2 linked regions of the Homo sapiens genome follow. The protein of the gene in region 2 purifies or fractionates together with the protein of the main gene of each other region. This does not show direct contact. Each region holds a gene or a part of one and is shown on either strand. Other genes may lie near its edges.

Region 1 (4,300 bases), on a different chromosome or scaffold from region 2:
AGTGTAGGGACTGTCTTATCCATTCTTGCATCACTGGCATAGTAGGCACTAAATGTAGTTGCTGAATGCTTAATAAGAGGAATGGAAGTCTTCGTAGCTTGGGGTAGATACTAATGGGCAGATAGAAAGTTCCCATCCCTGTTCTCTGAGAAAGTGTCAGTGTTCTTTTAGTTTGCTTAAACTGTGTGGGTACTTGAGTCCTTTTAAACGATTAACGCTGGGAAGAGGCACCATTTAATTAATTAATTTGTTCTGGAAGGGATCAGTGTACAATTTTAACTCAGTGCTTTGTGGATCTAGCTAAAGGTCAAGAACTAAAGTCGGCTATTAGTGCCTCTGGAAGATATTTCTGCACTTTAGCACCTTTCTGATGTTTTTCCTTCACCTCGAGCTGGCCTCACTCTCTTCAACAAAACCGAACCTGCAGGAAGAATGTTGTACCATATCCAGCATTTTTGTCCCAACAAACATGGGACAAACGTTTTTCACTAGAATCATCCTTGAACAAGTTATCCGAATTCCTTACATTCAAAGGAAATCCTGCCCCCAGTCTCCAAAACTTCATCACATCACAGACGTTCAGGATTCTTTCCATTCAAAGCAAAGCCAAGTTACATCTTATAGCACCCAGTGAATTATGATATGGGGCTGCGGTTTATTTGCTCTGGCGACAATATGGCTTACTTGCCGTGGAATATCCCGGTATTTCAGAAGTAACATATTATTTTTAAAGAGGGAGCTTTGCTTTCTCTAAATCACATGGTGCAAAGTTGGGAATACAGTGGCCTGTAAATTACAAATATTATTTACAAACTAGAAGGAAAGCTGACATGTGTTTGTGCCTGTGTGACAGTTTCACTAAGGAATTCCAAAACTGTGGATAGCCTGTTACTTGAGAAAAATACACGGTGGCAGTCTTGCAGATGTTTTTCCCGCCTGTTAGCCCTCCAGGTTCAAAAACTGTTTGGTGCATTTTAAGGCGGCAGTCTCACCAGATCGCAGGATTCTAGTCTAATTGGCTTCTAACCTTCAATCTAACCTTGCCGGCTTCCTTGCAAAGCCCGGTGCAAGGGCCTCTTTCAAAATGAACCCACTGGTGTGCCTAGCAGTCGGTAGAAGAAGCGGGAGGGCGTCCGGTCTGCACGCCCGCCGCGAGGTTACAATGCTGAACGCATGAGATGGAAGATACCAACGGGAGGCCGAGGGGATCCACGGCGCCCGCGCGGGCTCCGGCTTCCTCCTGCTCTCGGCGCCGCTGGGCGACCGCCCATGACCCGCTCTTGCGGGCTCTGTCCGGTTGACAGGCGACCCTGTGGCCCGGGGAAGCGCGGGAGGGCGCCGGCGGAAAGTTGAAGAGCGTTTTTCTCGCCGCCGCGTGCATTAGGAGCTCGACGAGTCCGCCCTGGGCTTCCTGGTGGGGCTGGGCGGGCGGGGGAGGGGCCGCGCAGCAGCAGCGGAAGCCAGACCTCGGCGATAAGAGGCTGCACAGCGACATGCAACAGTCTTTTCACTGCAGCTGAATGAGTTGTGGCGCCCACAATGCTCCCATGACAAGGAGCTGACAAGTTCCATTTTCCGTCGCGGGCATCTTGGAATCATGACTCCCACAATGCCTTGGGCACTTGGTCGACAGTGGGGCCGCCTCTGAAAAAAAAATGTGAGAGGTAAGTTTCCATTTTCACAGTTTCCCCGCGCCGCTTCATTGTTCGGACTCCGGCGGGTCTGCCCGTGGCTGAAGGAGGAAGTGCGAGGAGGTGCTCGCCGGCCGCGGTTCTCCCGGGCAGGGGCGGGCCGCTCGCGGTAGTTGGTTTCGCGTCCCTCAGCACCTCCTGCCCGGGGGAAGGCGGGAGGGTGAGCCGCAGCCGCTCCTGCGCCCTTCCCTGCCGCGGGCTCTGCGGACGCTGTCACGGCACAGCCCGCGCACGGCTTGGCAGCCCAGCGGGACCCAGGGAGAAACAGGGGGGCGAGAAGAGAAACAGGTGCGTGCAAGTGTACTCACAACTTAATGACCTTTGTCGGGGGAAGGTGTGAGTCCCTCTGAGTCGAGCGGCGCGCGGGTCTTCCCGGCGGCTCCCGCATCCCTGGCCCCGGGGCTGCCATCCCGCCCGGTTTTCATCTGGGCCAAATATGTGCACGCAAAGGTTAATTCTCTGCTTGCTACCCATAAATTACGCATGACATGTTTAGCTGGGCTGCCTTATATGGAGAGTGCTGTATTTCAGGCCAGTTTGCCTTTTGCCAAGTTTACAGGGCGGAAGACGCCCTGTAGGAGAGGGCTGCCTCCTCCTTTTCTTCTTCTTCTTTTTTTTTTCATCGTTTTGTAGTGCGTCACTCAAAAACTGTAAGAAAAGTAAGTATAGAAGCTCTTTGGGTGGAGCCGCAGTTGGTTGAATTGCTTTCATGAAAGGTTGAAAAGAATGAAAAGTAGTTAGTACTTGGGTTCTGGTTTTTAGACAAAAGCAGGACAAATATGTAGCCACCCCCCAACTTTTTTTTTTTTTTTTAAACGGAGCCGGAATCTGTTATTGGTAGTAATGTGTCATGTGAGAATACTTTGATTCCAGAGCCTGTAACACGAGCAGGTATATGGTGGCGCTTATGCCTTCCCCTCGCACAGCACTTTACAACTACAGGGGTGTTGCTGCCAGAGTAATATTGTATTCTTAAGGCTCTCTGGGGCCGGGAGAGTATGCGGCTGTTGGGATTCTGGGGTGTATTTCCGTGGAGTATGTCTCCCCAGGATTAAAGTTAAGAAGCTGCCGGAAAGGTTGTTGCCGCTGACTTCACTTTGTGTGCCCACCAGCACAGGCACAAGTCATAGCAGATGGATGGCAAACTCTGCCATATACTCTGAGGAGTTTCTTAAATTAATACGCTAGGAGAGAAGTCATAATTAATGCTTTTAGACTTTCGAGCCCTCTGCAGCGTGCTTTGAAATACTACACCGGTGGACACTATGTCCCTTCCTCCTGGGTTTGAACACAGTGTCTGTTTATACACAGAGGGTGTTTAGTACCTAAGTATTCTATACCAGCACAAGAGAGCCACTCCACAGTTATCTCTCTGTGTGGATTCCTAAGTGTGTTGGTGTTTCTCCTTGCTGTTGAGATAAAATATTATCACCCAGAGAGAAAATGAAAGTTCAACGACTGTAAAATTTATCCCAGGAATGTGCAGTTCAATACTTAGAATGTCTTAGATGTAGTTATAGATAGAGGCACTGAATAAGTTATTTTGTAGCCTGAGAATGCACATCGCTGTCACTTGTATCTTGCTTTCTTAAAGTTGGTGACAACTAAGGCTAAACTTCTTTAGAAAACCTAATGTTCTAGTTTTTATCTGTTTTGTGTATTTGCATGGGAGTTACTTTATTATTATTATTATATTGTTAGGTCTTCTTTGAAAATGTAGGCATAGCTTTTTTAGTCTTATTTGTTTAATGGGGGGTTTCCTTGCTGAAGACTACAAAAGTTGCCTTTTGTGTTTTAAGGAACAGGTTGGGTCAGCAACAGAAAACCTGTTCATCTATAATTATAGTGTCACTTAAGACATAATAATCAGATTTCATTATTACTAAGAGACTCAGAAAAACCTCACATATGCCTAGTTTAATTTTTTTCCTTATGTAACTGTGAACAAATTTGTGTGTAGATACACATCAAGTGTGGTACTCTGCGCAGTCATGCCAAAGAGAAACTGAAGTGTTATATGGTTTGAGATATTATTGCTTGTGTTTACATTTCCACATTTGAGGCAAAGTTAGACTCCAAGTTGAATTCATTAAATTTTGATTCCAACATTCTGTTCTTCCTTTGGGCACAGAATTCCTATGAAATGAAACACTGGGTTTTGTTCCAGAACAAGAACAGACTAACCCAAAATTTCTCCTGGGGGAAAAAAAAAGAGTAAAATTATATTTCTCATTGAAAATTGTATTTCTCATTGAGGAAGGGTGTGTTACTTTATTATATAAAATGCCTTATCTTCATTATAAGAAAAAAATGCCCTTGCATTTGTCACTGTTGCCATACATTAGGCCTGTATTTGATAGATCTATATGGAAACAGAGAATAAATAATCTTGCTGCACCTTCTGGCTTTCTGCTTGGTGATAGATGTGCGGATTAGAGAACATCTCAGGTCTTGGTTAGGAGAAGCTGAAAAGAATAGGTGATTGGGTTTTTAAAATTCTGTATGCAAAGGCATTAGGGTGGGTAGTAGATATGAGAGTCAAAAGAGTGGAGGAAAGAAGTGAAATAGGTTCACGAAGTGATTGGCCCAAAATAAAATCCCATCAACCA
Region 2 (3,479 bases):
CTTGAGGGACACCCAGGGCGTGCGGGAGATGAATGTAAACTAGAAACTCTAATTTGTTGTAGCAAAAGCTAGGCTGAGGTAGGCTTGTGTTGCTTTAAGAATTCAGACTAAAGGACCAAGGAAGGCTTTCTAGCAGTGATCCTGAATGAAGGCCTATAGGAGTTAGCAAGGTAGAGAGGACTGAAGGGCTAAGGAATAGCCGATGAGGCAGAGGGAAGGAATAGCGTGGAAAGGCCCAGAGACCCAGCACAATGGCTCAGGGCGGCAAAAGAAGCTGCACAGCAGTGGAATGTAGGATACTTTGGGAAGAGGACCAGGAAGTGAGGCTGGAAAGATCAGTGGAGACAAAATATGAAAGACCGTGTGTGTTGTTAAGGAGTTTGGACTTTATCCTAGAAGTGACGAGGCGCTACTAAAGATTTTATTTTTCCTGAGACAGAGTCTCACTCTGTTGCCCAGGCTGGAGTGGAGTGGCGTGATCTCGGCTCACTGCAACCTCTGATGCCCAGGTTCAAGTGATTCTCCTGCCTCAGCCTCCTGAGTAGCTGGGATTACAGGTGCCTGCCACCGCACCCAGCTGATTTTTTTGTGGGTGTGTATTTTAGAAGAGATGGGGTTTCACCATCTTGGCCAGGCTGGTCTTGAACTCCTGACCTTGTGATCCACCCACCTTGGCCTCCCAAAGTGCTGAAGTTGTGGAGTGACATGGTCAAACTGTGTTTTGGAAGGGTCACTCTGATAGAAATAAGAGAATGAACTGTAGGCAGGAGAAGCTGGCAACAGAGGAACGAATTAATTGCAGAATTAAGAATTTATGTATGTCAAAAAGCACCATAAACAAAATTTGAAAGCAAAGCACTTGGAAAGCATATTTGCAGCATTTCTTGACAAAAATAATATTCTTAATAAAATTACAAATTGATAATAAACATACCAATATCAAATAAATAGAAAATTCACAAAGAAAGAAGTACAAATGGTCAATAAGCATATGAAAATGTTATTCGCGAAGAATCAAAGAAAGTTAAAATAACATTGACATACTATTATCCCAGCTACCAAATTGGGAAAGATTTGATAAGTGATGATACCTAGTGTTAGGGTGCAGGAAACAGGGTACTCTCTAGGATCCAAATAGGAGAGCGTTTTGGTACAAACTTTCTGGAGGGTGGTTGGCAACATGTATCAAAATTCTTAAAAATAGCCAAGCAAGTCTCTTCTTGGAGTTTATCCTAAGGAAATCGTTATAGACATGTGCAAAATTTAGCTACAAGAATGTCAGTTGCAACACTATTTACAATGAAGATTGGGAACAAATGAAATAATCACTATTTGAGGATTGATGATAAAAAAAGGGTCCATCCATACAATGAAGATGCTGTTGAGAAAGTTTGATATGCCGAAAATGTTCGTGATATTATTAAGTGAAGGAACAGAAGGAGCAAAAAACAAAAAGTGTCCAATATGCTGCCATTTGTGTGTGATAAAAGAATATATACATATGTTTGACAATGTGTAAGCATCTCCACTAGGATGCAAAATAAATTAGAGGGAAACTAGATGCTGGCAGACGGGGTAGGGAGAAGATTTACTTCTGACTACAGAGCAGTTTGTACTTTTTGAATTTTGTATCTGTGTAGGATTACATATTCTAAAATATAAATACACACTTGAAAAGTTATTAAAGAGTATATTCAGTGTATCCAGTTTTTGTTTAAAAAAATCCACAACTGTGTGTGCGTGTGTACATTTACACCAAAAAGAACTAAAAGGTATATTCAAAAGAATACACGTTTGTCTTGGGTGGTAAGCTTATGGATTGGATTTTGTCCTTTTTTTCCTAAAACTTCTACAATACACACATGATGCTTTCACAATAATTAAAAAGCGTTAGTTTTTCCCCCAAAGAGTCCATCGCAAAAGTCCAGGCAGGGGATGACAGTGCAGGTCAGATGCCTGATTAGTACTCCAGCTACATAGGTCAGCAGTGACATCCGCAACGTACGGAATTAAATCACAGTTCTTGTTTTGGGGAGGGATGAGGAGAAGGAAGCTGAAGATTTGGTAGGGAGAATGAACCTGGTTTTGTGCTCTAAAGCCTTTGTTGGACAAATGCACAGAAAATTCAGCCCTATCACCCCAAACATCAACCAATACCCCAGGTAGCTTTTTCTCTTTGGGATTATTTAACTTCAGGTCACAGTGAATGGAGTTCCAGTAAGCCTGTATATCTAAGTCACCAAACAAGCAGATGACCTGGACGCTTGTTCTATGAGGTTCTGAGAGGCTGTCTTCATTTCGTTCTGGTTTTTGATCTTTCTACATGGGATGGCTACAATCATATCCTGGATTGTCCAGCCCTGCCCCAGCACACTCATGTAAACAAGACCTCTCTCCTGTCTCTGCATAGGGAATAATTACTCGGAGTCCTTCCTGACGCACAAAGACCAAGGGAAGACCCTGGCAGTTTGAACTCATTCTCCAGGTGACCTCTACCCTTCTCTTCATCCTTCAGATCCTAACAAACCATCTGCCAAATCACAAACGTTCTAAGTTGGAGGCTTGGGAATGGGGGTGGGGGTGGGGGTCGGGGCGTTTGAACACATTCCCGTGTGGGGCCATAGGGTAGTTTTGGGTTAGGGTCATGTAAAGCCAGCTAGGAGGAAGAGGAAAGACAGCATAATATAGTAGGGATTGGGGAGAATGTGGCAGCTGAAATAGCTTCTTCCTTTTCCTCTTCTCCAGAGAGTGAGCTCTAGGTGAGTAATGGCAGGCCCCTCAATATTTCTAGCACCTTCCTGTAGCCCCCGTTGAAAGCCTTTGGGGAACTATGTGAATATAACTTACGCTGCTCTCTTCTGGGCCCCTCGGCTGTGATTGGATCCTGCCGTGGTGGGGCATCTGCTTACATAATTAACCCATATTTAACTTTGTGTTTCCTTTCGGTCTTAATTGTGACCCTTTCCCAATGCTGGGGATGGGTGATGAATGCTAGGTGAGTTGTTGAGATACATGCTGGCTCCATCAGTAAGTAGAATGAGCAATACACAGACATAACTATTGGACCTCAGCTGCCTTTTTCTGACCTGTCACTGCTCTGACTACTAGGGATTCTGGCCTCTGGTCTTTTGGGGCCCTTGAGTAAATACATAAGGAGGCCATGTACTATCACTGACATCATGAACACTTTTCAGGTTAATACATATTGTCCTGTTCTCAAATGGTTATAATTGCCCAATATTATACTTACAGAGAGGCAACTAAGTATAGCATAGATACTAGCCAGAGCTCTGGAGTCAGGCAGGCCTGGTTCAAATCCTAGCTATGCCACTAAAGGCCATGCAACCTTGGGATAATTAATTTTTCTGGTTTTCAATATTCTTACCCATCAAATGGGAACAGTATCCCAGAGTAACTGCATGAAAGAAATGAGATTATACATGTAAAGATCTGAAGATAATGCATTTAATAAATCCTAA

What was found.
Region 1: the proteins of TTC9 (region 2) and MBNL1 fractionate together in Homo sapiens (co-fractionation; one large-scale study listed by BioGRID). This does not show direct contact.

The regions. Positions count from the first base shown.
Region 1 is NC_000003.12:152,267,429-152,271,728, forward strand, and holds the start of MBNL1 (muscleblind-like protein 1), read left to right. Parts: upstream 1-1,500; 5' UTR 1,501-1,664; exon of another isoform or gene 1,665-2,350; intron 2,351-4,300. UniProt on the Homo sapiens protein: Mediates pre-mRNA alternative splicing regulation. Acts either as activator or repressor of splicing on specific pre-mRNA targets. Inhibits cardiac troponin-T (TNNT2) pre-mRNA exon inclusion but induces insulin receptor (IR) pre-mRNA exon inclusion in muscle.
Region 2 is NC_000014.9:70,672,680-70,676,158, reverse strand, and holds the end of TTC9 (tetratricopeptide repeat protein 9A), read right to left. Parts: 3' UTR 793-3,479; downstream 1-792.